Linked DNA regions of Homo sapiens. The protein of the gene in region 2 interacts with the protein of the main gene of each other region in a pairwise test. Each region holds a gene or a part of one and is shown on either strand. Other genes may lie near its edges.

The links.
Region 1: the proteins of CLOCK (region 2) and PPP2R5E interact in a two-hybrid assay, tested with the Homo sapiens proteins (one study listed by BioGRID).
Region 3: the proteins of CLOCK (region 2) and RORC interact in a two-hybrid assay, tested with the Homo sapiens proteins (one study listed by BioGRID).
Region 4: the proteins of CLOCK (region 2) and PER2 interact in a two-hybrid assay, tested with the Homo sapiens proteins (one study listed by BioGRID).

The regions. Positions count from the first base shown.
Region 1 is NC_000014.9:63,393,372-63,400,397, forward strand, and holds part of PPP2R5E (serine/threonine-protein phosphatase 2A 56 kDa regulatory subunit epsilon isoform), read right to left. Parts: intron 3,346-7,026; coding exon 3,215-3,345; intron 1,915-3,214; coding exon 1,855-1,914; intron 558-1,854; coding exon 449-557; intron 1-448. UniProt on the Homo sapiens protein: The B regulatory subunit might modulate substrate selectivity and catalytic activity, and might also direct the localization of the catalytic enzyme to a particular subcellular compartment.
Region 2 is NC_000004.12:55,536,909-55,543,934, reverse strand, and holds part of CLOCK (circadian locomoter output cycles protein kaput), read left to right. Parts: intron 1-7,026. UniProt on the Homo sapiens protein: Transcriptional activator which forms a core component of the circadian clock.
Region 3 is NC_000001.11:151,807,777-151,814,802, forward strand, and holds part of RORC (nuclear receptor ROR-gamma), read right to left. Parts: intron 6,920-7,026; coding exon 6,798-6,919; intron 5,927-6,797; coding exon of another isoform or gene 5,845-5,926; coding exon 5,712-5,844; intron 5,571-5,711; coding exon 5,463-5,570; intron 5,282-5,462; coding exon 5,171-5,281; intron 3,659-5,170; coding exon 3,549-3,658; intron 1-3,548. UniProt on the Homo sapiens protein: Nuclear receptor that binds DNA as a monomer to ROR response elements (RORE) containing a single core motif half-site 5'-AGGTCA-3' preceded by a short A-T-rich sequence.
Region 4 is NC_000002.12:238,250,609-238,257,634, forward strand, and holds part of PER2 (period circadian protein homolog 2), read right to left. Parts: intron 6,479-7,026; coding exon 6,314-6,478; intron 5,304-6,313; coding exon 5,049-5,303; intron 3,095-5,048; coding exon 2,304-3,094; intron 1,154-2,303; coding exon 991-1,153; intron 136-990; coding exon 1-135. UniProt on the Homo sapiens protein: Transcriptional repressor which forms a core component of the circadian clock.

The DNA.
Region 1 (7,026 bases), on a different chromosome or scaffold from region 2:
CCCTCGGGGAGTATTTTAAACTTAAGTAAGTCTCTTTCCTTTGGGAATGAAGGCGATAGGCCCGGCGCCGTGGCTCACACCTCTGTAATCCCAGCACTTTGGGAGGCCAAGGTGGGCGGATCATGAGGTCAGAAGACCCAGACCATCTTGGCCAACATGGTAAAACCCCGTCTCTACTAAAAATACAAAAATTAGCTGGGCATGGTGGCGTGCGCTTGTAGTCACAGCTACTCGGGAGGCTGAGGCAGAAGAATTGCTTGAACCCGGGAGGTGGAGGCTGCAGTGAGCCAAGACTGTCCCACTGCACTCCAGCCTGGGCGGCAGAGCAAGACTCCGTCTCAAAAAACAAAAACCAAAAAAACAAAATGAAGGTTATATCAATATCAAAAAAACGAGTTTGCAAACTTTTTATTTTGCTTCTAAAAGTAGTTGTACAAAATCCTCCTACCTGTGCATGGAAGAGTGATAAGCTCCTGACAGTGTGTAAAGGGATCAATACTTTCACCAGAAACTGTTTGTGTTCTGCCTTAAGAGGTAAAGCAAAGCCATTGATAATACTAGGGAGAAAAAAGAGACACAAATTAGCAATGTTACCACAAGTTGAACTGAGACAAACTGTTCTTGTGATATTAATTAAACTTAATCAGTTTGTTTGTACAAAACAACATAATACCCACCCCAGTGGCATTCAGAATTTCCTTTTTTTTTTTTTTTTTTTTTTTTTTGAGACAGAGTCATCTTGCTCTATTGCCCAGGCTGGAGTGCAGTGGCCCAATCTCAGCTCACTGCAACCTTCGCCTCCGGGATTCAAGCTATTCCTATGCCTCAGGCCTCCCAAGTAGCTGGGATTACAGGCACCCACCACCATGCCTGGCTAATTTTTTTGTATTTTTAGTAGAGAAGGAGTTTCACCATATTGTCCAGACTGGTCTAGAACTCTTAACTGCAAATGATCTGCCCACCTTGGCCTCCCAAAGTGCTGGGATAATAGGCGTGAGCCACCACACCCAGCCAGGATTTCTTAATGACTTCAAGGAATACAAAAAGTTGGAAGGAAATTTAAGAGAAGAAAATTTGCTTCTGGTCACCCAACAAAGGCTCCTGTGCTCCTAAAATTAGTCAGATGGTTTCCAAAAGCTCTTTATCAAAACCCTTTATTTTCCCTCCCTTTTCCTTCTCCAAATAATGGCCCGCCTTGCTTGCTTCCGCCTTAAATATGACCTTTTCCATTTCCAGACATCATTCCTTCTCATTCCTGAAACCTCTGCCCAGCCTAGGGAAATCACTGAGAGAAAGCCATGTGACTCCACCTTCTTTTTCTCTTCATATTAGGAGAAAAGATTAAGTAATCATATTGTCCAGCTACATTATCCTCCCTTGTGTGTAGAAACTTACACCACAGCTCTTTCCAATTCATTCCACTACTCCAGGCTGCAGCTGTTCAAGGACTATACCTGGATACACAACTCCTTTGAAAATGGCAATCTTTCCAATTTATTATAAACTTGCTTTCAACAGATAAGGCAAAGGACCAGATAGCCTAAAAACTAATGAGAATAAGATGTTTTGGAGTAACTAGCCTGACCACAATTAGATGTACCATCTTTCTAGTAATGAATGAACTGTCAGCTCTTTCAGTCATTCCAGTGGAAATGGCAATGCATACTTGTGGAACAAGGGGAACAGGAAATTGTGTCTTGTAGAGTCAGCTGGAAAATATGCTAATAGGCACAAATGAGAGAGACCCAATGTACATACAGCAAGAGAACTAGGTGAGCATCTCTTGGTGCCACCTGAACCTAATTTTTAAAATAATATTCATCTGAGATTAGCAATTAGAAAAACCGTGCTCACCTTCCTAATATTTCCAGCAGTTCAGCTACACCATTGAAGTGTTCTGTTTCATAAACAAACCTGAGAGAAGAGGAGAAAAGGGAGGAGAAAGGAGGAGAGGAGGAGGAGAAGGAAGGGATAAAAAGAGGAGGAGGAGGAGGAGAAGGGGGAGGAGGAGGAGAAGAGGAGGAGGAGGAGGAGAGCGGGGAAGAGAGGAGGAGAGGGAGGACAAGGGGGAAGAGAGAAGGAGGAGGAGGAGGGGGGAAGAGAGGAGGAGGAGAGGAGGGGGGAAGAGAGGAGGAGGAGAGGAGGGAAGAGAGGAGGAGGAGAGGAGGGAAGAGAGGAGGAGAGGAGGGAAGAGAGGAGGAGAGGAGGGAAGAGAGGAGGAGAGAGGGGAAGAGAGGAGATGGGGGAGAGATGGGGGAAGAGAGGAGAGGGAGGAGAAGATGGGGAGAGAGGGGGAGGAGAGGAGGGAAGAGCGGAGGAGAGAGGGGAGAAGAGGGGGGAGGAGAGGGTGGAAGGGAGGAGGAGCAGAGGGAAAAGGGAGGAGGAGGGGGGAAGAGAGGAGGAGACGGGGGAGAGATGGGGGGAAGAGAGGAGGAGAGGGAGGAGGAGAGGAGGAGGAGGGGGAGGGGGAGAAAAGGAGGGAAGAGAGGAGTCGGGGAGGAGAGGAGAAGGGGGGAAGAGAGGAGGGGAGCGGGAAGATGGGGGAGGGAGAGGTGGGGGAAGAGAGGAGGACAGGGAGGAGAAGAGGAGGAGAAGGGGGAGGGGGAGAAAAGGAGGGAAGAGACGGGGGAGGAGAGGAGAAGGGGGGAAGAGAGGGGAGGGGGAAGATGGGGGAGGGAGAGGTGGGGGAAGAGAGGAGGAGAGGGAGGAAAAGAGGAGAAGGGGGAGGGGGCAGGAGAGGAGGAGAGCGGGGAGGAGAGGAGGAGAGGGAGGGAGAAAGGAGGAGGACAGGGGATAGAGGAGGAGGAGGAGAGAGGAGAGGAAAAGAGGAGAGGAGGAGGAGATGGGGGAGGAGGAGAAGGGGGAGGAGAAAAGCAGGGGAGAGGGAAGAGGAGGGGGAAAGTAGGGGGAGAGGAGGGATAGAGAAGAAGCAGTGGGGGGAGGAGGGAGAGGAAGAGGAAAAGAGGAGGAAGAGGAGGGTGGGAGGAGAAGATGGGGGAGGAGAGGAGAAGATGGGGGAGGAGAGGAGAAGATGGGGGAGGAGAGGAGGGGGAGGGGGTAGAGGAAGAGGCAGGAGAGTCAGTAGAATGAAGGAAGGCAGGCAGAAAGGGAGAAAGAGAAGTCAGTACACCGTTTTCAGATATTTGAGATTTACTTAATACTCATAAAAACACCAACTTTGCTTCTCCTTCTTCCCCCATCACACTCCACTTACCTTAGAAAAATATTGTTAATCTGTTTTCGGATAAATGCTCTAAGACCAAGAAACTTGCCATAAATTCTGTGTAAGACTGTTTTTAAGTAGTCCCGTTCCCGAGGGTCTTCGCTGTCAAATAGCTCCAGAAGCTGTTGTAAATGAAAGACATTATAGCTGTCAAAGGCGGTTTCAGAAAAGGATTTAGGAATTCTATTATTTAAAATCCCCTTCTTCCTTCCTCAAAAAATGTGTTGAATATCTATTATGTGCCAAGCACAGTGCTAGTCTTTGGGCATATCATGATAAACAAGTCAGACAAGGAGCTTATATTCCACTAAAGAAATACAAATACAAAATAACAACAATAAAAGTAATAATATGAATAATAGCTAATACACATATGGCACTTACTGTGATCATCAGGCAATTTTCCAAGCAATCTACATATTAATCCTCCCAATGAGATAGTTTTGTCCCCCTTTTACAGAAGAGGAAACTGGGGCACATAGGGTTAAGTAACGTGCCCACGGTCTCACAGCTAATAGGTGGTAAAGCTAGAATTTGAACCCCAGCAGTTGAGGCCAAAAGTCCGTAGCTCAACCACTGCACTATGCTACCTACTGATATTCCAAATATGCAGTTAAAATAAGCTGACTGCCTGTGGTGACTCATGCCTGTAATCCCAGCACCTGGGGAGGCCAAGGCAGGCGCATCACCTGAGGTCAGGAGTTTAAGACCAGCCTGGCCAACATGGTGAAACCCCGTCTCTAGTAAAAATACAAAAATTAGCCAGGTGTGGTGGCGGGCACCTGTAATCCCAGCTACTCAGAAGGCTGAGGCAGGAGAATCACCTGAACCCAGGAGGCAGAGGTTACAGTGAGCTGCGATCGCGCCATTGCACTCCAGCCTGGGCCATAGAGCAAGATTCGGTCTTTAAAAAAAAAAAAAAAAAAAAAAAAAAAAGGATAAGCCTTCAGCTCTACTAGAACATCTAGGAAAATGAAAAAACCTGAATCAAAACAAACATCAAAATGTCTCAATGATACTGGCAATGGTCCTTTTTAGATCCAGACTCTTGTTATGTAGGTGTGCTCACTCTGTAAATAGTCAACGAAGTGAACATTGATTATTTCTGTTGTATGTTATATGTGAATAACTTTTTTTTTTTTTTTTTGAGATGGAGTATTGCTCTGTTGCCCAGGCTGGAGTGCAGTGGCACGATCTCAGCTCACTGCAACCTCCGCCTCCTGTGTTCAAGCAAGCAATTCTCCTGTCTCAGCCTCCTGAGTAGCTGGGACTAAAGGCACCTACCACCGTGCCCAGCTAATTTTTTGTATTTTTAGCAGAGACAGGGTTTCACCATATTGGTCAGGCTAGTCTCAAACTCCAGAACTCAGGTGATCCACCCACCTCAGCCTCCCAAAGTGCTGGGATTAGAGGTGTGAGCCACCATGCCTGGCTGTGAATAACATGTTTAAGTTCCCAAACATTTGTAATCTAAAGTTAATAACCAAATCCTGATAACATCACATCTACATGCTCAAAATGAGGTCCACGCAACTAGTCCAAAAGAGGTAACAAGCTAAAGTTTCAGCCAAATGCCAGTGAGCACAACAGATTCAACTCAATCTCTATCAAAAGTTCTAGCTGCTTTGTTTTTGTATCATTGACAAGTTGATCCTAAAATTCATATGGAAATGCAAGAGAACCAGAAGAGCCAAAATACTCTTGAGGGAAACAAAACTTGAAAGATTCACACTTCTCTATTTCAAAACTTAGTCCAAAATACCAAGACAGTGTGGTACTGGCATAAAGACAGACATACAGATTAATGGAATAGAATTAAGAGCCCAAAAGTAAGCCCTCACATTTATGGTCAACTGATTTTCAACAAGAATGGTCAATAAACCATGAAAAGTGCTCTATTTTATTGATCATTACAGAAAAGCAAACCCTGGCTCACGCCTGTAATCCTAGCACTTTTGGAGGCCGAGGGGGTAGATCACGAGGTCAGGGGTTTGAGATCAGCCTGGCCAACATGGTGAAATCCTGTCTCCACTAAAAATACAAAAATTAGCCAGGCGTGCTGGCACATGCCTGTAATCCCAGGTATTCGGGAGGCTGAGGCAGAAGAATTGCTTGAACCTGGGAGGTGGAGTTTGCAGTGAGCCGAGATCGCGCTGCTGCACTACAGCCTAGGCAACAGAGGAAGACTCCATCTCAGAAAAAAAGAAAAGAAAAGAAAACCCAACCAACAAAGAGATACTCATTGGATGGCTATAATGAAAAAGAGGGATAATAAAAAGTGTTGGCGAGGATATGGAGAAACTGGAACCCTCATACATTGTTGGTAAGAATGTAAAATGGTGCAGCTATTTCAGAAAACAGTTTGGCAGTTCCTTAAATCTCCCACAGAGTTACTATATGACTAAGCGATTCCACTTTCATGTATATATCCAGCAGAACCGAAAACACATGTCCACACAAAAACTTGTACACAGATGTTCATGGGAGCAATATTCATAATAGCTAAAAACTGAAACAACCCAAATATCCGTCAACTGATAAACAAAATGGGATGCCATGGAATATTATTCAGCCATAAAAAGGAACAAAGTAACTGATACATGTTACAACATCAATGAATCTTTCAAACATCATGCTAAGTAAGTAAAAGAAACCAGACACAGAAGGCCATACAATGTATGACTCCATTTATGTGAAATAAGCAGAATAGGCAAATCCATAGTGACAGAAAGTAGAATGGGGAGTGGCTACTAATAGGTCTGGATTTCTTTCTTTTTTTTTTTTTTTTTTTTTTTTTTTTTTTTGAGACAGAGTCTTGCTCTGTCACTAGGCTGGAGTGCAGTGGCGCTATCTCGGCTTACTGAAACCTCCGCCTTCCGGGTTCAAGCGATTCTCCTGCTTCAGCCTCCTGTGGGTCTGGATTTCTTTGAGGGATGATAAAAACATCCTGCAATGATACTGTGGTGATGGTTGCATGACTCTGTAAACATACTAAAAACCACTAAATTGGAAACTTTAAAATGGTGAATTTTATGGTGTATGAATTACAACACAATAAATCTGCTACCTTTACAAAAAGTCAGTGTGCAAGTTCCTCTGGCTGAAGAACAAACTTGGAAATTGGTTTGAATGTTACTGAGTTGTTTTTTTTAACATTCATCATCATTGCAATAAAGCAAAATTCAGTTCTAGTGTCTTTACAGCAAAACATTTCAAGAGCACATAACACACAAATTAGACTACCATCGTCATCAAAAAGGCTATCCAGATATATGTAAGTTTGACCTCAGGTGATTTAGACATGAGGTTGACACTGACAGCAGAATAAAAACCTCATGGTCAATAATCGAATGTGCTTTTGTTCGGTGTTTTAATTTGAATAAAAGACAAGAGTTATGGACCAAAAAAAGGCCCCTCAAACATGGCAGGAAACGCAAACTAAAGGATGGTCTTCAAAAATAGGTAGAGACAGGACACAATTTTTAGCTACATAATGCCATCCACCATCCATCTATCATTCATTCATCTGTTCATTTTAAAAATGAGTATTTCAAGTAAATATTTATGGTGTGCTTATTAAAAGCCAGCCAGTGGGCGAGCTGTCAGGGATACAATGATAAGCAAGACAGATACAGTCTTTGCTTTCTCAGAGCCTATTCTAATGGGGAATACAAACAAGTAAATAAACAGCATGTTAAGTAGTTCAGGATGTTGTATAAATACACAGCAGACACATCTACTGTATTTGGAAGAAGTGGAGTGATCAGCAAAGGCTTCTAAAGGAAGAGACATCCAGGCTGACC
Region 2 (7,026 bases):
TTATTTTGTAGGATAGGATACTTATATTATTTCTGTTTGATATGTAGGTTTTTCTAATAGACTTCTGCAAAGTGTCACTTATTTTTCATTTGAATTCCATGTGGGTCCGTTCAATCTTTTTTAAAAATGGAATTACATTTCAATTTTTTTTTTTTTTGGAGACGGAGTCTTGCTCTGTCACCAGGCCGGAGTGCAGTGGCACGATCTTGGCTCACTGCAACCTCCGGCTCCCAGGTTCAAGAGATTCTCCTGCCTCAGCCTCCCGAGTAGCTGGGACTCTTATTTTTAAAATTACAGAAGTAAATTGATGCTCATAAAAAGTTAATACAGTGTATATATAATAAGTGACAACCCCTTTACATCCACTTCTAGCTCACATTCCTCCCCAGAGGAATCTAGGGAGCACAGCTACTCGTATACCCTTGACTGAAGGGTAACACTGTTAACACCACTGTATGATCTTGTAGATCTTTTTCTGTGCATTTGCAAATATGTTCTTTTCAGCCTTGAAAACGGAATCATCTTGAATGATCATCTGCTTTGCCATTTTGCCTCCAGTATGGGCTCTGTTATTACCTACAGGACAGGGACATGACTTGGAGCCTGTCAGAAAGCTTAACATCTGATATAGACCATAGGTCATACTCATCTTTTCACTAGTGAGGGGCCAATTGTTATGGAGGCATTTGCAGAGTTTGAAGGGAGGTCATACTGATGTGAGTTTTATCTGGTATAGATTTAATTCACTGTAAACTTCGAGCGGCCGAGGTGGGAGAATGGCTTGAGCCCAGGATTTCAGGACCAGCCTGGGCAACATAGTGAGACCTCTTTGCTACAAAATTTTTTTAAAAAAAATTAGCCAGATGGGGTGGTGCACACCGTAGTTTCAGCTAATTGGGAGGCTGAGGTGGAGGGATCACTTGAACCCAGGAGTTCAGCCTTGGTGACAGAGTGACACCCTGTTTTAAACAAAACAAACCCAAAAGGTGCTTGGATTCCATGAATTTTATAGGACTCTTTAGAGTCCAAGTTTTAGGGTTTTCTTTGGCTTTTGACTTGATCGATAGTGTATGGGTTAAACTTTGATTTTTTTTCCTTCTGTACTTGCTTGCAGACTCCTACGAAAGCCTCGTAGATTACACCAGCCTCTTGAGCTCCTCTGAAGTGAACCTAAGCAGACTGTCCTTAACTAAGGGACACTGATACTGACTTGGATAAAATTTAGCTTTTGAAGGGAAAAGGAGAGAAGAGGCTCTTTGGTTTGGCTTTTGCTTAACTGACAACAAACAACTAATATGCACTACCCTCTCCTCCATCCATCCCTCTGGTTCTCTAATAGTTCCAGAGGGTTTGTTTTAAACCAGGTTACAAAGAATTACCAAACCTTAATTCTTTTTAGCTGATGGAGTTTGCAAAAAGTTCAGAGTATTGATCAAGACTATTTACTATGGGAGATACCTAGAAAGATGCAGTATAATTGACCCTGCCTTCAGTGGTTTTGAAATCTAGTATGGTTAAAACAGCATAGACATTAATAATAATAATAATAATAATATTATTATTATTATTATTATTATTATTATTATTATTTGAGACAGAGTCTCTCTCTGTCACCCGGGCTGGAGTGCAGTGGCGTGATCTCAGCTCACTGCAACCTCCGCCTCCTTGGTTCAAGCGATTCTCCTGCCTTAGCCCTCCAAGAGTAGCTGGGATTACAGGTATCTGCCACCACACCCGGCTAATTTTTGTATTTTTAGTAGACAACGGTGTTTCTCCATGTTGGCCGGGCTGGTCTCAAACTGCTGACCTCAGGTGATCCGCCCACCTCGGCCTCCCAAAGTGCTGGGATTACAGGCATGAGCCACCATGCCCAACTGAAAAGCATAGACATTATAACACAAGGTGGAAAATGATAGATTTTATAAGAAAATTACATACAACATTTGTAAGGATGAGCCTATTTCTGGCTGTTTTTTTTTTTTTTGGTGGGGGGAGAGGCATGGGATTTTGAGGGAGAATACGTATCTTAACCTTTTAATTAGTTAAGAAAGGAAACTTAGATCTTAGCTCTTGATAACGTAAGGAGTTGTTATGTTCTTTTAGCAGGCATCTGTGAGACTGATAGCTATTTCAGTAGTTTTTTTTAAGCTTTCCCGCTGGAAAGAACCATTTGATGTTTTATTTGATAATTATAATACAGCCTCTTTAATCATTTCAGGATTGCTAGAAAAATTAGGAAATTAAATCCTATCAGTTAACTGTTGTCTACCATCAAATATGTCAGCCAGTGTTAATATTAAAAGAAAATTGTTTCCTCTTATCTCAATCTTGAAGCATATATATTATGTCACCTCTTCCACACATTTTTACTTCTAGTGCTGTGTCAAATAAAGCATTTATTTACTGTGACTATTTTAATAAAACAATATTGTGGGGGAAAAGTCAAAGTTCTGCACTGTAGCTAAACCTTTTGATGTTTATCTGTTTCCTTATAGTTTTTTACAGATGCATAAAGTAAAATATTTTTTAAGTTCCTTGTAGGCATTACACCAATGGCTGTTGCATTTTCTCCTTTTCTGGATCAAAAATTCTAGATGGAGTTGTATGAATTATTTATAGAACACTCAAGTGTCAGAGCAATATAATTGTTACTAATTGACTATAATTACATAATGGCATTTATATTTACAGGTTGCTTTACAACCATTTATTAAAAGCCCTATTAGGTGTAACTTCTGTGAAACAGGTGGATACCGAGATTCCTGTTTTTTTCCATTTTTTTGATTATGCAAATGTTGAATTATTTAAACTTACTCTTATAGCCTCAACTCTGAGTTATTACTTTAGTTGGATATTTCACAGAGATGTAATTCTGTTAATTTTAAGTCTTAGAAGTCTACAGAAATCACTTGTGAAAAATGAAATTTTATGAATTACTTTGTCTTTTAAAGTATGCTGTTTCGGATATAATTTGCTTTTCATTTTTCAGAAACATTTTCATTTTTTACATTAATAATGACGACGATTAAGTTTCTTTTTCAAAGAGGTCACATTCAGGTACTTAACATTTTTAATTCTCATCCCAAATAGTGGAAAATTGAATGTGAGGGCTATCTGGCTGTGACATGTTACCCCATTGATCCCCAGGGTTGATTCAGCTCATCTGGCTGGCTCGGCAGGTGTCCCCTTCCTCCCTCTCCACTCCACGTGCGTCCCTCCTGAAGCTGAAGCTGCGTGCTTGGTTGAAGAGGACAACCATCCCAAATAGAGGAGGACTGGTCTTGGGTCAAGGGTATACGAGCAGCTGCGCTCCCCTGCTAGAACCTTCGAGCAAGCTCTCAAGGTCCAAATAGTGGAAAATGAAAGTACAGGTTGATTCATGTTGGCAGGTTTTGGTATCAAAAAAAAATTAAAAAGCACACATGGGGGATATACCAATAAAGGTTAGACCATATGCCTAGCTAAGAACTTATCATTTGTATTAAAATATGGTTTAATGTAAAGAGTTGCCTTTCTCCATTCCCCCCTCCCCTCCCCTCCCCTCCTCTCCCCTCCTCTCTTGCCCCCAATTAAAAAATAGCACATCCCTAATGTGGGAAACAGTAAGAAAGCATAGATTACATTTTAGGCAGGGCACAGTGGCTCACACCTGTAATCCCAGCACTTTCGGAGGCTGAGGTGGGTGGATCACTTGAGGTCAGGAGTTTGAGACCAGCCTGGCCAACATGGTGAAACCCTGTCTCTACTAAAAGTACAAAAATTAGCCGGGCATGGTGGCGGGTGCCTGTAATCCCAGCTACTTGGGAGGCTAAGGCAGGAGAATTGCTTGAACCCAGGAGGCAGAGGTTGCAGTGAGCAGAGATCACGCCATTGCACTCCAGCCTGTGCGACAGATCAAGACTCAGTCTCAAAAAAAAAAAAAAAAAATTAATATCATTGGAGATCATACCACCGAAAGTGCTGTTGTTAATCTTCTTGATTATCTATCTGCTTCCTGCATTTTGTTGAGCCATTACATAAGTATATGTATACTTATATGATGTTATGGGCTCCTAATGTAGTCCACTGCAGTGCAAGCTGTTCAGTTAACAGTGAATCATCAACATATTTTCATGTCAGTATTTTTCTGCTATGTGATTATTTTTAGTAGGTATGTAACATTCTCATCTCTGTGTAATAATTTACTTATCAATCTTCTGTTGGACATTGAAGTTGTTTTCAATTTTTAGGATAATAATACTGTCACTTCCCTATATCATGCATTTTGATACTGGCCTACCTAGTATCAGTGATTTTTTCTATTTTTGTTTCTCTGAAAATATCTCAATTTCACCTTTTTTTTTTTTTTTTTTTTTTTTTTTTGAGACAAGGTCTCACTCTGGCACCCAGGCTGGAGTGTAGTGGTGTGAACATGGCTCACTGTAGCCTCAACCTTTTGGGCTCAGGCAATCCTTCACCTCAGCCTCCTCAGTAGCTGGAACCACAGGCACATGCCACCATGCCCAGCTAATTTTTAAATTTTTTGTATAGGCGGGGTCTTGTCATGTTGCCCCGGCTGTTCTTGAACTCCTGGGCTTAAGAGATCCCCCCACCTTGGCCTCCCAAAGTGCTGGGTATAGGTGTGAGCCACCATGCACGGCAGTTTCACCTTTTTTGAAGTGGTTTTTGGTGTTTTTTTTGTTGTTGTTGTTGTTGTTTTTTTGAGACAGTCTCGTTCTGTTGCTTAGGCTGGAGTGCAGTGGCGTGATCTGAGCTCACTGCAGCTTCTGCCTCCTGGGTTCAAATGATTCTCATGCCACAGCCTCCTGAGTAGCTGGGATTACAGGCATGTGCTACCATACCCAGCTAAATTTTTTGTATTTTTAGTAGAGATAGGATTTTGCCATGTTGGCCACGCAGGTCTCCAAACTCATGGCCTCAAGTGATCTGCCCACCTTGGCCTCCCAAAGTGCTAGGATTACAGGCATGAGCCACTGTGGCTGGCCTGAAGTGTGTTTTCACTGGCTATTAAGTTCTAAGTTGGTAGTTATTTTCTTTCAACACATTAAGAATGTTTGGTTGCTTTCTGTCTTCCTTTCTTTTTGTTGAAGTCAGCTACCAGTCTTATTGAAGGCAATGTATTAGCTATATTCTTGCTGAGGATAATGTGTCTTTTATTTTTCCTTGGCTAATTTTAAGACTCTCTGTGTTACTTTTAAAGCACTTTGATGTGTTCAGATGTGGTTTTCTTTGTTGCTTTATGTTTATAGAGTTTTTTGAATCTAGCTGGATGCCTTTTAGTTTTGGAAAGTTCTGTTACCACCTTTTCATATATTCTGCCCCTTTTTTCTTTTTGGATCCTAATTACACATATATTAAACTTAATTATCATGTTCCACATGTTGAAAAAAATTTTTTTCTCTGTTTGGATATTTTCTATCGACCTGCCTTCCAGTATGCCAAAACTATCTTCTCTTTTTGTCAAAATAATCTTTTGTGTTCTTAATTTTACATTGTGGTTTTGAGTTCTAGAGTATTCCTTTGATGTTGTTTTATAGACTTGTAATAGACTCCAGTTCTCTTGAACATACTAATTATAGTTATTTAAATGCTTGTCTTTTCCAATATCGGCATCATCTATTGGTCTGTTTATCTTGTTTGTTTTTCTGTTGGTTATTGGTCATATGGTTGTATTGTTCCGTCTCTTCACATGCCTGATAAGTTTTCGAAGGAACTTACCCATTTCATTTAACTTGTTGCATTTATTGCAAAAAGTTGCTTATAATACTCTATTATTGTTCTTTTAATATCTGTAGAAAGTGTAATGAGTCTAATATCTGTATAACCTGTAGAGATTTAGTATCATTCCGAATACTAGTAATTTGTCTCTGCTCCCCTTTTCCCTGATTAGTCTGGCTAGAAGTTTATTAATTTTATTGAGGTTCTTAAAAAGTTAACTTTTAGTTTAATTGACTGCCTGTGGTTTTCTTATTTCCGCCCTGGTCTTTATTTCCTTTCCTCAGCTTACTTTTGGGTTTAATTTGTTTTCTTTTTCTGGTTTCTTAAGATAGAAGCTGAGGTCATTGATTTGTGACCTTTTTTCTTTTCTAATGTAAGCATGCTATAAACTTCCCTTTAATTGTTTATAATTTATTTATTTGTTTTTTGAGACAAGGTCTCACTACTGCTCAGGCAGTACAGTATCGTGATCATGGCCCATTGCAGCCTTGACCTCTCAGGCTCAAGTGATCCTCCCACCTCAGCCTCCTGAGTAGCTGGGACTGCAGGCATGTGCCACCATGCCTGGCTAATTTTTTATTTTTATTTTTATTTTTTTGAGACTGGGTCTCACTCCGTTGCCTAGGCTTTAGTGCAGTGGCCCAATCACGGGGTCACCACAGTGTCGACGTCTCAGGCTCAAGAGATCCTCGCACCAGAGTCTATTAAGTGCTGGGATTACAGGCGCGTGCCATCATGCCTGGCTAATTTTTGTATTTTTTGTAGAGATAGGGTTTCACTATGTTGCCCAGGCTGGTCGTCAACTCCTGAGCTCAGGCAATCCACTTGCCTCAGCCTCCCAAAGTGCTAGGATTACAGGTGTAAGCCACCACACCTGGCCAGAGTTTATTACAATTTTTTCTGAAGACAAGGATGTCACTGTGTTGCCCATGTTGGTCTTGAACTCAGTTCAAGCAATCCTCTTTCCTTGGCCTCCTGGAGTGCTGGGATACAGATGTGAGCCTCCACTCCTGGCCGTTTCCAGTTTTTGATATGTTTCCATTTTCATTCCATTCAGAGTACTTTATAATTTCTTTCCTGATGTCTTACTGGGTCTATAGTTTATTTATAAGTGTGTTATATAGTTTTCAAATATTTGAGGATTTTCCAGAGATCATTGTTATTTTTAATTTAATTCCATTGTAATGAGATAATTTTAAATTTATTCGGATTTATTTTATGGCCTAGAATATATTCTATCATTGTAAGTGTTCTTCATGTGCAGTTGAAAAGAATGTGTGTTTTGTTGTTAGGTGGAGTGTTTTACAA
Region 3 (7,026 bases), on a different chromosome or scaffold from region 2:
CTGGTAGAAGTACGTGTGTGTTCAGGACACTGGAGGGAAGTGAGAGTGGGTGGGGCACAGGTGAATGTTTTCTGGGTGAAGCCCTCAATTTATGTTCCCAATACTTCTAGAATGAACCTTGTCAAAGACTCTAATGTGCACTTCCTGCTTTTATAAGAGTGATTGTCTGTGACTCTTGTTGTATGCTGTCACATGCCTCTGCCTTTGTGCATGTTGTTCCCCTCTTCCCATTACTAATCCTTACCCTCTAGTGTCACCTCTCCTAAGACTATTTCCCTAACTGCCTCCCATCTGGATTAAGGGCCCTTCTTTTGGGCTTTCCTCTGTGTAGCACTTACTACATTGCAGGAAAATGGTCCAATTTGTCTGCCTTCCCACCCTAGATTTCAGCTCCTTGGCTGAGGTCTCTCTTTCCCTGTCTCCTCTGTACCTATCATAATGCTTAGCACATGGCACATGCTTAATAACTCTTTGAACTAAACAGACTTTCTAAGCAGGCACCTAACACTGCAAGTAGCAAACCAATGCTGCCAGCACTCAGCCAAAGGGGAGATGAAAAAGGCACAGAAACCAGTGAGCAGACGGAGGCAGGGAGACCTCACTGGAGCAAGGCTGAAAGAACAATTTATCTCTTGCAGTCTCCTCTACAACCAAGAGGCTTAAAAATGTCTCTTGCCTGCCATTGCCTCCCTCCCCCAGCTTAGTTTCCTTGGAAAGAGGCAGTCAGAGAAAAGCAGGCAGCAGGGTGTGATCCCTTCATATCTCCTAGATTCTCTCTCTTCCTCACCACTGCTTTATTCTGAGCTTTTTTGGGCTATGGCAATAGCTTCCTTCATTCATTCAACAAATATTTGTTGAGAACACATCTGGATCTGAGCTAGGCACTGTGATGGCCTCTAGTGATATATCAGATATATCAGTCAATAAAGTATAATCTGTACCTTGATTAAATTTACATTCTGGTGAGGGGCCCAGAAAATAAATATGTAGTGTATCAGATAATAAGTTCTTTAAAGAAAACTAAAGCTTTTTGTATGGGGTTACTGGTCAGGAAAAACCTCTCCCGAATGAAGAGATGGGGTAAGCCATTTGGAAAACTGGGGGAAGAACCCTCCAGGTGACTACAATAGCAGGTACAAAAGCCCTGCGACTGGGTTTGATGTGTTCGAGGAATAGCAAGGAAGCAAGTGTGGCTGCAATGGGTGTTTGAAGGGGCAGTGGAAGATCAAGTGAGAAAAGAAGGCAGGGATCATGTTATGAGCCACTTGACCATGACGCAGACTCTAGATTTGATTCTCGGCATCACAGGCAGCTACAGGAGGGCTGAGAACAGGAGTCAAGGCCAGGTGTGGTGGTTCACGCCTGTAATCCCAACACTTTGGGAGGCCAAGGTGGGCAGATCACCTGAGGTCAGGAGTTCGAGACCAGCCTGGCCAACATGGTGAAACCCTGTCTCTACTAAAAATACAAAAATTAGCCGGGCGTGTAATCCCTGTAATCCAAGCTACTCAGGAGGCTGAGGCAGGACAATCGCTTGAACCTGGGAGGTGGAGGTTGCAGTGAGCCGAGATCACACCACTGCACTCCAGCCTGGGCGACAGAGCAAGTCTGCCTCAAAACAAACAAACAGAACAAACAAACAACAACAACAAAAACAAGAAAAAAACCACAGGAGTAGGGCATGATGAGATTGCATTTTTAAAAGGGCTACCGTGGGTGCGGAGTAGGTGTGGTTGCTACAGGGCAGATGAGGGTGGAACAGGGGCTCAGTTAGGAGGCCTCTCTTAAAGTCCAAGTGAAAGCTGAGAGCTGGTAGGGGCCAGGGTGGTGGTAATAGTAGGGAAGGTGATGTATTTTGAAAGCAGATCCAACCGGATGTGCTTTCCAATTGCTCTCCCAGATTCCTGTCTCTCCTCCTTCAAATCCATCCTGTAGCAGATTAAAGTTCAAGTTCTTGAGAGCACAGACCGTGTAAGTCATTGCTGTATCCTTAACACCCAGCCCTGTGCCTGGCACATAGCAAAGGCCTGCTTGAATAATTACATAAATGGTTCCTTTATACTGGTTCCAAAGTAAATTGCCTAAATGACAGCTCTGATTGTGTCATTTTTCTAGCCTTTGGAGCTCCCTGTGGCCTAGAAATAAAGCTTTAACGCTTATATGGCATTGAAAGTCCTCTCTGATTTGCCCCTGACCTAATTTTCAGGCTGATCATCTGGTGCTCTTCTGCCCCACCAGTCTATCCCAGCTCCTGATTTTACACTTTAGTGAGGATGTACCATGAGTGATTCTCCACATACACACTATTTTGCCTCCTTATTTTTCTCCTGTTGTTCTTGGTCTTCATTGTACCCTAGTCCCACACCCAAATCCCATAAAACAATTATCCCCAGCCTCTCATACTCATCTCATCCATTTTTTTGGTTAAACCTCAGGAAAAGGATTTTTTTTCATTTTTTTTGTTTTGCTCCTATTGTTCCCTAAGCCTGGAATGCCTGCCCCACCCCCATGAATGCCTGTTAAAATCTTACATCATTCATGGCCTAGTATAAATGTCATCTTCCCTGGGAAGTATTTATGACCCACTCCTTTTACCCCCAAATTATTTTTAATCCCTGTTTTATACTCTCATAACATTTTCCTGGTGTCACTTATTATAGTTATACATAGGGGACACAGGGATAGAAAGAGCGCAAAGAGCACTGGGATTCAATCTTGCATTTAAGTCACTGAAGTCTCCTGATAGCTACAAGGAGATTTTTTTTTTTTTTTTGAGACAGAGTTTGCTCTTGTTGCCCAGGCTGGAGTGCAATGGCACAATCTTGGCTCACTGCAACATCTGCCTCCCGGTTTCAAGCGATTATCCTGCCTCAGCCTCCCAAGTAGCTGGGTCTACAGGCGCCTGCCACCATGCCTGGCTAATTTTTTTTATTTTTAGTAGAGATGGGGTTTCACCATGTTAGTCAGGCTGGTCTCGAACTCCTGACCTCAGGTGATCCACCCGCCTTGGCCTCCCAAAGTGTTGGGATTACAGGCGTGAGCCACTGTGCCCGGCTGCTACACAGGGAGATTTGAACACCTGTCCTATTGACTGGGTTGCCATGAGGATGAGAAAGCATGTCAGCAAAAGCACTCTGTTAATTGCATTATTATTATATCACATACCACATTCTACTCTATGTTAGAGTTAGTGATACACAGATCTCTTCTTCATACCAGATTAAAATCTCTTGGTGGGGGCAGCGACCAAATCTCTGTGTCTTTCCACAGTGCCTTGTACAAGCAGGTGCTGGGTAAGTGCTGGCTATATTAAACTGAATTGTTCCCTGGAGGTCCCTCCCAATCCCAGGCCCTCTAACTTTCCAGTCTTTATGCACGTGGAAGTAGCTGTTCATTCCCTTAGTTCCCACTGCTGATGCAAGCTCTCTAACAGAGAGTGGTACTCCCGCACTCCCTCCTCTGTACCCACAGACCCCGGCCCTCGCAAACTCTGATGTTACAGAGCTAGCGATGGGCCTGGCCTCTTCTACCCCAGGGACTGCTCCTACCTTTGCCAGGATGCTTTGGCGATGAGTCTTGCAGAGATGATGATGAAAGGCCAGCTCCAGATTGTACTGCAGCTGTTCTACTTTCCTTTTCTCTTGGAGCCCTGGCCGATCTGGAGGAGGGGGTGGGACCGTAATGAGAACAAGAAAGAACATGGACATTAACTCCCAACAAAAGGGTGTATCTTTGTGGACATCTGTGCTGGATAGAGGTCTTCTAAGCTGAGCGCGTGCATGTGTGTGCCTTGGTTTGATAATGGTAAGCTCTGGACGTTGGGCTTGGCTAGCTGTCTACAAGGAAAACTGGGAAGAGATGAAAGGTATGAGAATTTCTGATCTCCTGACTCCAAGCTACCTTCTCCCTGGTAACCTGATATTCCACATAGCTCATTCAATGCTAGGCACTAGGATTCTGTCATAGGGGTAACAAGAGTTGGAAAAGAGCTCCCCCATGTACGAAAAGGGCTCCTGATAGGAGGTGGCCTTCCTGAAGGTGCCCAGGCCTGCACCAGGGGGCTTGCAGCAATCTGTGACTAACTTTTGCCCTGATTCTATAAAATATCCAGAAGTCATCTTTAAAGTTTTTATCTTCTAGTTTGAAGGGCATATTTAGGTGTCCACTCACTGGCAGAGCCAGAAGACTGATAGTCTCGATCTGCAAACTCAGGTTAGCAGCTTGACCCACTTCCCTAGGTTCTCTGAATATTTAGTATTCATCTGGCTCAGCCCAGCTACTCCATGCCAGGGGAGTGGATAGGATATCCAGAGTCTTCCTATTATAGGCATACAGCCTTAAAATTAGTTCACACAGAGCAGTGATTCTTAATCTTGGTGGCCTGGGGGTGGCTGTTAAAATTCAGTGCACCCCTTATCAATTACAGATGGTCCCAGTCTTATGATGAGTTGACTTACTATTTTTTGATTTTATGTTGGTGAGAAAGCCACTTGCATTCAGTAGAAACCATACTTTGAATACCCATGCAACCATCCTGCTGTTCACTTTTAGAACCATATTCAATAAATTACATGAGCTATTCAACACTTTATTATAAAATAGGCTTTGTGTTATATGCTTTTGCCAGACTGTAGGCTAATGTAAGCATTCTGAGCACATTTAAGGTAGGCTAGGCTAAGCTATGGTGTTCAGTAAGTTAGGCGTGTTAAATGCAATTTCAACTTACCATATTTTCAACTTACGATAGGTTTATTGGGACATAACCCCATCATAAGTCATGGAGCACATGTACACTGGAATCTCTGGAAGTGGGACCCAGGCAGCAATAGTTTTTAAAGCTCCCCAGGTGATTCTGATGTGTGCTACAATGAAATCACTGCCATAGACTAACAATCAGACACATTTCTGTCAGGAAAGTGGCTCATTTCCTCTCAACCTCATTTCTCCCCACTTCCCACAACCCCACCTTATGCTGCTCTTGTCCCTCTCTGAGAGTCCTCTGAATCTTTATTTTAACTCATTTTATTTTATAGCAATACTGAGTAGGGCTCATTCTGCTATTTAAAGCAATTTCCCAGATTTAACTACATCTGAAGGTCTAGACTCTTCTTCAATATCTGCCATGCCCCTGCCACCTGAATGTCCTTCACCCAAGCCCAGCAACACTCACGGGCATTGATGAGAACAAGGGCTGTGTAGAGGGCAATCTCATCCTCGGAAAAGTGCAAGGCACTTAGGGAGTGGGAGAAGTCAAAGATGGAGCTGATGAGCTCGCTGCAGCCTGATGGAGTGGAAATGAGAAAAGTGAGAGAGTGGCTGGAGCGATGGTGCCCGAGGACACCGCCCTTATTGTGTTTAGAGCAGAGGGGGCAATTCGCCCTGAAAAGAGGGTGCCCTGGGTCACAAAGCTTTGCCTGGGGTTGGCATCAGAATCTTCCCTCTCATTTCTCCCTGCCCCTCACCCAAGGCTCGGAACAGCTCCATGCCACCGTATTTGCCTTCAAAAAAGACCGTGCGGTTGTCAGCATTGTAGGCCCGGCACATCCTAACCAGCACCACTTCCATTGCTCCTGGGCAGTGGGGAGAGAAGATGCAGGGACAGTGTCAAGCAAAGCCAGGATCTGACTCTGTCCCCCTGATTTCCTTAAGCCACCTCCCTCCACTTGGCTCTGTCCCCTTGTCCCCAGGCCTGCCCACCCATCCCTGGGCACCTGCTTTGAGAAGCACAATCTGGTCATTCTGGCAGAGCTCCATAAAGCCTGAGAGCCTCTTGGCGAACTCCACCACGTACTGAATGGCCTCGGTGAGGTGGTGGGCACACCGTTCCCACATCTCCCACATGGACTGCAGGGAGGGAGGAGGGTCCCGCTGTAGCGCTCTGTGTGGCCCTGTGATCCTCCTGAGCCCTGGAGCCCCACCTAATAAACTGCAAGGGGTAGGCTCTGAACTCCTATGTTCTCAACTAGCATTTTCAAAAGCCTGGTCTTAGCACAAATGCACAGATTCCTGCCAGTGAGTCCCACACACTGAGCACCTACCGGCTGCTGACACCGAGTTAGCTGTTGTGAGGGAATCCAAAAAGTATGAGATACAGCTTTGCCCTCCAACAAGGTATATCTCGTTGAGGTGAACAGGACATACAGCTGCCCCTTCCCCCACAAAGGTTATGCCCAAGGTCTCAATAACCTGGAGAAGCAAATGTGAAGTGCCAAACGAGTGTGTTTAGAGCAGGTGGTATGAGAGTGTGATCGAAAAGGCAGCATAAACTTTGGAGCCTGATGAATCTGAATTTGACTTTGGTTCCACCACTTTGTGACTTTGAGGAAACCTATTAACCCCTCTAGGCTCAGTTTCTGTCTGTTAAAAGTAGGAATAAATGCCACCCTCATAGGTTGGTTGTGGTAGGGGCTGAGGATAATTTACATAAAGCGTTTAGCACAATGCCTGGCAGAGAAGGGGTGTTTAACAAATGGTAATCAGGGTTCTGATTATTGTTATTGTTGATGGAAGAGGAGGAAGGAGGGTGCACCAAGGTCTGCATGGTAGAGGAGGTAGGATGAAGGCCAGGTACAATTTTAATAGGCAAGAACTAAGGAAAAGCGCTCATCCATCTGCTGGGGTGTAGACAGATACACACATTCGCAACTGTACATAAAAGGTGTGCACATGCTTGTTGGCCAGCCTGTGTCTGTGATGTCCCGCCCTGCCCCAGGACCCAGTCGTGCGCAGGTAGCCATCTCTGAACTCTCCCGGTGGGGGTGGGATACGTTCCCTTCCTGCAGGTCTCCTGGCCTCACCTTCCTCTGGTAGCCAGTCACTTCCTCCCGGGAGAAGATGTTGGAGCGCTGCCGCAGCAGGTCCTCCAGCCGCAGCTGGCATGTCTCCCTGTAGGACTTGCAGACGCTCTGCACCAGGTGCTCTGGGGCCGGAGAAGGAAGGCATGGCTTGATCTCAGCCAGCTCCTACGCCTACCCATGCAAGGGCACTTCTCAGCCTGGCCTATCCTGCTCCGCCTCCTCCCTCCGC
Region 4 (7,026 bases), on a different chromosome or scaffold from region 2:
AGATGGGATCCTGCAGGACGCACTTAATGAAATGCTCACTTTCTTCCATACCAGTGTTCATTTTTGCTTTGTGATTATTCTCTGAGGAGTCAATGCTTCCAAAATATTTGCTGGTATGACTTGTGTCACTACTGCCTTTAAAAACAAAAAACGTGGTGCGTCAAAACATTGACATATGAAATTAAACCTTGCATAATGTGCTTCCTCAAAGTCAGAATGATTTGAGAGAGCCCAGTGCCTTCTTAGGTATTGGGTATCTATGCCGGTGCATGTTCCCCTTCTCTCCCACTTCTTGAATGCTCTGGGTAATTAGGAAACAGGATCTCTGCTAGTGCCATGCAGGCGATTCTTTCCTGTGAAGCCCTGAGCAGCTCAGGTGGAGCTGCGTGTTAGAAGCCTTGACCTTCTCTCCCAAGCTCTCACCATCTCCACTCATGTGGACCACAGGGCACTGCAGTTTCCCACAAGGGGAGGCAGCTGGCCTGGAGCGCTCCCTAGCCAGCCTCACCTGTGCAGCACGCCTGCGAAGGGAGGCGAGGTGAAAGCTCACTCCAGAGAAGTAGGGGAGCTTCAATTTTGTGGAGAGTGTGTACATTTCTGGTGCCTGAGATTCCAGATCACATGTGAAAGATCCCAGCGGGTAGAGGCTTGCAGGTGCTCCATACCCTCAGTTCACACAAGTGGAACTAAAGCAGGAAGGCAAACCACTATCTGGGGAGTCAGAGGGCTGGTCCCACAAGGAGCCAGGGTGTGAGGCCTGTAGGCACTGAAATCAGAAGCAAACAGGGAGGATGTGGAATTCTGACTAGCTAGGGCCAGCCATGCTGAACAGGGAGAGTGTGTCTGTGTGGGTGTCTGCATGGGCTCTGACAGCTGCTTGGGGAGTGCCGGTGATCCCTGTTCTGAGCACAGAGGCCGGCCTGTGACTCTGGAGCAGTGCATCCTGCAGGAACCTCCCAAGTGCCTAACACCCCGCCAGGGCCAACATACCTGCCCCACTCGGGGAGGCGTCGCAGCCCAGTGAGCCGGAGCCCAGAGACTCCGAAGCAGCAGAGCCCGAGGCTGAGCAGAGGTCCTCATTCAGCAGGAGGTTTAGGAGGCCGCTTGACGTGGAAAGGGCGTCACTGTTCTGTGTGTCTGAGGGTTCATCACGCTTTAGGGACAGGAAGCAGATACTGCTGTTCAGGGGCTCAGTCAGGACACAGCATATGCAGCGGGGTGGGGGTGGGGGGCATGAGTGGGGTGAGGGTGGAGGGGTGCTGTGGAGCGGCTGCAAGGTTCACGGCCAGGGACGGCCTAACGAGCAGACCACGCATCACCACCAGGCCTACGGTGCAAATTCCACTGATGCTCTATGGATGCCGTCTAGTTACATTTAATTTTCGGAGAGTCACATGGAAGACGGCAATACCTGGGCTCCAGGGGGGAAAGCCTCAGGCTGCTCCTTGGCCACAGCCCCCTCCTCACATGCAGCAGACATGGATGGGGAAAACGCCTCTCACAGCACCCGGTGTGGGGGCTGCCTTGGGATTGAGGGCGGGGCCTGGCCTGGGGAGCATCCCTGACCCTCCTCTCCTTGGAAACCCAGACTGCAGGCCCAGGACTCCAGAAGCAGGAGCCCGGAGGTGGCAGGAGGACTGGGAGAAGCTCCACAGATCTACATGCTTGCACTTCCTCACCCGGGAGCCCTAGGTCCTCTGGCCAAGGCAGGGAATCGCCTGAGGCCTACGGACTGCACTGCTGCTGGCGTTCCCACACACTTGAGCTCGTTCAGAAACACAAGCGTTTAACTGCAAATACAACTACCGTTTCATTAACTGGTTAAGAATCTCACACAGTGTCCCTACGCCTGCGGAGGATGGAAACTGAGGTCACGCTGGTTTTAGGGCTGTGTCCCCCTCCTTCTCCGCCTTCACCGGGGCCACCTGAGCCAGGCTCCGGCGCCACACCCTGAGGAGCCCTAGCTCTGGTATTTAACCTGACTGTGCTTTATCTCTGAAGCGTCATTTAAAAAGTCGAAGCCCACAAATACTGTCAAGTCACATGCTGCTTTCTGGAGTCTGTATCACAATCTCTCCTCCTTCATTCAGATTCCACGACAATAAAAGGCTTCGAATAATCTACTCTGATAGGATTAAGTGGGAAGCATGAATTTCTGGCACACACATTCATGGCAAAACCTACAGGGTTTGGTGGAAACCTCAATCGTGTAACCCCCATGTCTGAACTGAGGATGTGCGGCCGGCCTGCCAGGTGTGCTGTTTGCTGCCTGCTTTGGGGAAAGAGCATCAGAAAATCCTTACGGTCAGAGGCGCCTTCGGCTGCTGGTCCCGAGAAGTGCCAGGTTTGCAGTCCGCCCCTACAGCTGCTGTCTCTGTGGCCCCTGTGGTCCCCATGGCTCCAGTGCCACCCTCAGGGGCTTCCTCCAGCTGCAGCAGGTTGAGCTGCAGGGGCGAGCTGCTGCGGGACTGAAAGAGCGGTGGGGAGGCCCTACCCATGGCCGATGGTGGGGTGGCCCGGGTGGCTGGACAAGCACATGGCTGTCTGGGGATCGAGGTCCGGCTGGGGAACTCAGGCTGTGAGGCAGAGGCCATCTCGGATGTGAGTGTGGGGTGGCTCGGAAACTGAGGCTGGCTGGGGAAGAAGGCCTGGGGCAGGTTTGGGGTCCCCGAGGGGAAGGAATAACTGGGTAGCATGAATGCCATGACAGGCGCCAAAGGGGCAGGGAAAGGTGGGGGCTGGACTGCAAACTGGTGCTGGAGGTCCACGGGCACAGCAGGCACTGTGAAGCTGGCGTGGGGAGGTGCCGGGGGTGCTGCCACAGTCCCTGGCGCTGGAAACACGGGCAGTGAATAAGCTGCTGGCACTGGGGCGGGAAAGGGCACGGCTGGGCAGCTGGACTGGGACGTGTCTGAGGGTGACCAGGCTGTGGCGTTCAAGCCCACCAGCGGGGGCCGGGCGGACACGGGCCCCCCAGATCCGGTGCTCTCAGATGAGTCTCGAGGTTTGACCCGCTTGGACTTCAATTTTCTGTTCTTTCCTGTTTTTTTCCAAGGTGAATCTATTCCGGAAGTATTTCTTAGTCCAGGGGCAGCTAATGCAGAAAAACAAATACTCGGAGTTAAAATTTTAACTCCAAATTTGAAGACACCTCTTCGTTCAACAGTCCTGGGTTTCCAAATGCTGGCCCAGGGCCTGCCTGGTCCACCGAGCGGTTTTCCCTGATCCTCAGTGAAGTGAGAAAAATCAGGGCAAAACATCAGGTTTTTCCATAAAACTAAATTGAATCAACTTAAATTACAAGCTCTTAATTGCAGGACACATTCCTTATTTTCTTCTGGTATTAAATGTCCTTTCTTTTATGAAATGCTAATATGATAAGTGGTAATACAAAGTTCTATTTGTTAAATAAATACACTAAAAAGCTGTCATGTCTCTGCTGTTCCCCAGTATTTGGGGGAAAAATTGGTTAGTGAAATCTGAACGGGAGAGCCACTGACCTCCTCTATTTTTCAATTTATAAGCACTGTCACTACTGTTCCTTAAAGAGGGATGTTTCCTCTTTCACCTGTCAAACAGCCTGAGCAAGATCAGAGGGGAGCATTGCCTTGCAACCAAATTCTTCCTCTGCAATAACGAGTGCTGCTGAGTAAGGCATTCTTCAGGAAGATGGAGGGACTCAATTGGTAAAGGAGGGACTCTGGGTATGTCCCCATGGCCTCCCTGGGGAGTGGGAGGGGGATCCAGGGAACTTTGGTTTTCCTCTCACATCACGCGGAGTGACTTGGGGCTCTTGCAGCAGGTGTCTGGGACATCTGTCAGCTGTGCCAAGGCAGTCCCATGCCTTTGGGATGTGCTGAAGGGAAATGGGCTAGTCCAAGGCAAACTCCTATGTAAATGGAGGTTTTGCAATTCAGCCTCTCTATCTGGTGTTCTTCTCACAAGAAATCTGTCCCCTGGTGGGAACAGTGGCTAAAGCACTGGGCTCCTGGGATGTCATGTCTGGGTCTGGCAGGGCTGCCCTAGGCAGCTCTGTAGTCTGTGCACTGCATAAGGCTACAGAGTTGTCTAGGGGGCAAGCAAGAGCGGGAACTCTGCACTAGGCTGGTCCCATGGGGTGGGTCTGCTCATGGCCATGGAGTACACCTTTTTCTAATTTCTACAGAGGTTCTCTATGGGCTGGCAGTAACTCTTGAATCTGGGGAAGAAGGAGAGAAAGGAAAGAGTGGAGAAGACATAATCCTCAAGGAAGCTGTGGGCTTAATTTCTTACAAATTTCCCTTGGTGCGTCTGCCCAGAGACCCGGGGGAGCTGGGTCCTTGTGGTGAGTGGCTTCCTGGGCTCACTGGCTCTGATCCCTGTGCCAGCGTCCCAGGGGGAAGGGAAGAGGCCCCATCTCTAACAAGTGTCTGGGGGTATGGGAAGGAACTGGGGGATCAGGAGCCAGACTTCTGGGCCAGGAAAGGGGTGAAGAAGCTCATCTATTTTACTTCATCCCTTGACCTTCAACCCCCCAAGTGGCACCTGGCCTACACAGCAGCTTCCCACACCATGACCATGGACTCTGCCTGACTCTGGAGTCCAAAGCCCAGCCCTGAGGCTGGCCCAGTCAGGAGGGTGCATCTCCTGGGGAGAAGGGCACCAGAAATGGTACATCCCTCCTTCCTCATGTGCCCAGCACTACATGCCCACTATCTTGAGGTTGAATTCGCTGATTCTCTGGAGGTCCCGTCCAGGTGGGGCCCCTGCCCACATGGTTACTCAGGCAAGAAATGTGGACATGGCAGCACTGCCCTGCCATGGTTCTTCCCACCTCGGGCACTAGCCTGGGACTATTCCCCAGGGAATGCAAGCTGACATCCCGAGAGCACCCCCCCGGTGGGAAGTTCTACAGAAACAGATGGCGTTGCCAGGGAAGTTCCAACAGCTGTCTTATATGTTAATGCTTCTGAAACTGGACACATTTCACATTTTGAAACCAGCACTGGACTCAGTACCAACAGGAATAAAGTTTTTTAAAACGCACTTTTAATTCGGGTATCACTTACTTCGTTCACTTGGCTGCCCCTTGGATCTTTCTTGCAAGTAGTAATGGCAGTGGGACTGGAAAATGCTGAGTTTTCTTATTTCTTTGAACTTCTGCAGGAAGCTCTGCTCCTCCTTCTGTGTGTGTGCAGCGAGTACCTCCTTGGTGAGGCCCAGCTTCTTGAAGGGCTCCTTCTCTTGGCTGAGACCACAGGCCAGGGCAGGGCCCGCCAGGCAGTCCAGGGATTCTGGCCCACTCGCAGCATCTTCCACCATCTCTGTAACACAAGAACCCAGGGCTCTGGTCCACACGTGCCCTGTTTATTATTTTAAGGCCACACTATATTCACGAACAAGACAAATCATTCACGTATAAAGTAATTTCATGATGCCTGTGGCATGAGGATGAGACTCACAGCGTTTTCATTTAGCTTTCTGAGAAAGTTCATGGCAAAAGGCAAGAAGCAGAGCAGGACAGCCCTGACAGCCAGGTGCTCAGGAACCTGGGGCTGAACAAACGGAAACGTGGGGAACCTTGGGCTTCAGCTCTGCTGCTGAAGATATCCCTCGGCTGTCCTTAGCTTTCAGAACACCAGAAACTTGGATCAACGTGCTGAGTCTTTCCGGGTTTGGGACCAGGCATGGTGATAGATGGGACCCTATGGGCCCATGGGGCAGACAGGACAAGGGACAGGCAGGGCCACTGACCATCCTGAAAGGGAGGGCTTGGGGACTGGATCTTGGACATACACTTTTTCCTTATCATTTCCCTCTTCTTAGTAAAGAACAAATTCAGGATTCATTTTAATCATAATATTCTAAAGAACAAGAACACTCAGCCACCAATGCGCTCATTGTAAATCTGTTTACCACCTGTACTGGCTCCTGTCCACAAACAGGGAGAGCTAACGGTCGCACCTTCTGCTGGGCAGAGGAAAGAACCCCAGGCCTGCCCAGGGAAGAGGGAGGTGGGGCCTCGCTCCCAGTGCTCTCCGCACCAATTAAAGGGGATAAGATCTTGCACCACAATCAACCCTCCTGCGTTGATGCCAGAACAGACAACTGCCACTGGAGGGCACCACAGGGCAGCAGAGACCTGGACAGGTTGCTGCCTGGGCCCTGGCTGGCCGCACTCCACCCTGCATTTTACGTAACTGGATTTCCTGAAACGCCCCCTATCGGGCTATGGTGGAGTTCTTCTGCACTTAGAAAAATTTAAGATGGCAAACTTCTTGTTTTCATGGTTAAAAATCAAACTGCTCTCTGATCCAAGAGCCCATAGTCATACCTAACTCCGGCTGCGGCTTCTTGTCTCCCACATGGACGATGGTGCTGCTGTAGCTGCACTGGCTGGTGAGCGACGCCACACTCTCTGCCTTGCCCGGCAGTGCCAGCGAGGTCAGGTGCGTACCTACTCCCGTGCGGCTGTTCACCCTGGAGGGCGGCTCTGCCTCTTCATGAGAGGAAGGGGGAACAAACATTAGTGTGTCATTACAATGCACTGTGCAGATGAGAAACCGACACCCAAGTGCCCATACAGCTTCCACACCAGGGTGCACACAACCCATCCCATCCCATCCCACAGATGCTCTGGCCCAGGCATGGGGTGATTTGTCCCCAATGTTTATTCATAGAAGAATAGTGGAAAAGAGAAAGTTCTGAAATGGGAGCAGTTACACACTTAAATCCTGAGGCCTCTGCAGGGAGGCGCAGCAGCTTGGCAGCTGCAGGGCACACTTGGTGAGGGGCTCTTGCCTGCAGCCAGGCAGCCCTTCTGCAGGCCTGTGGGGAGGGGCTTTCCGACAGTCAGGAGCCAACCATAATCCGGGATACCCTGTTTCTTTCTTTTTTCTTTTTTGAGATGGAGTCTCGCTCTGTCACCCAGGCTGGAGTGCAGTGATGCAATCTTGGCTCACTGCAACCTCCGCCTGCCAGGTACAAGCCATTCTCCTGCCTCAGCCTCCCAAGTAGCTGGGATTACAGGCATGCACCATGATGCCT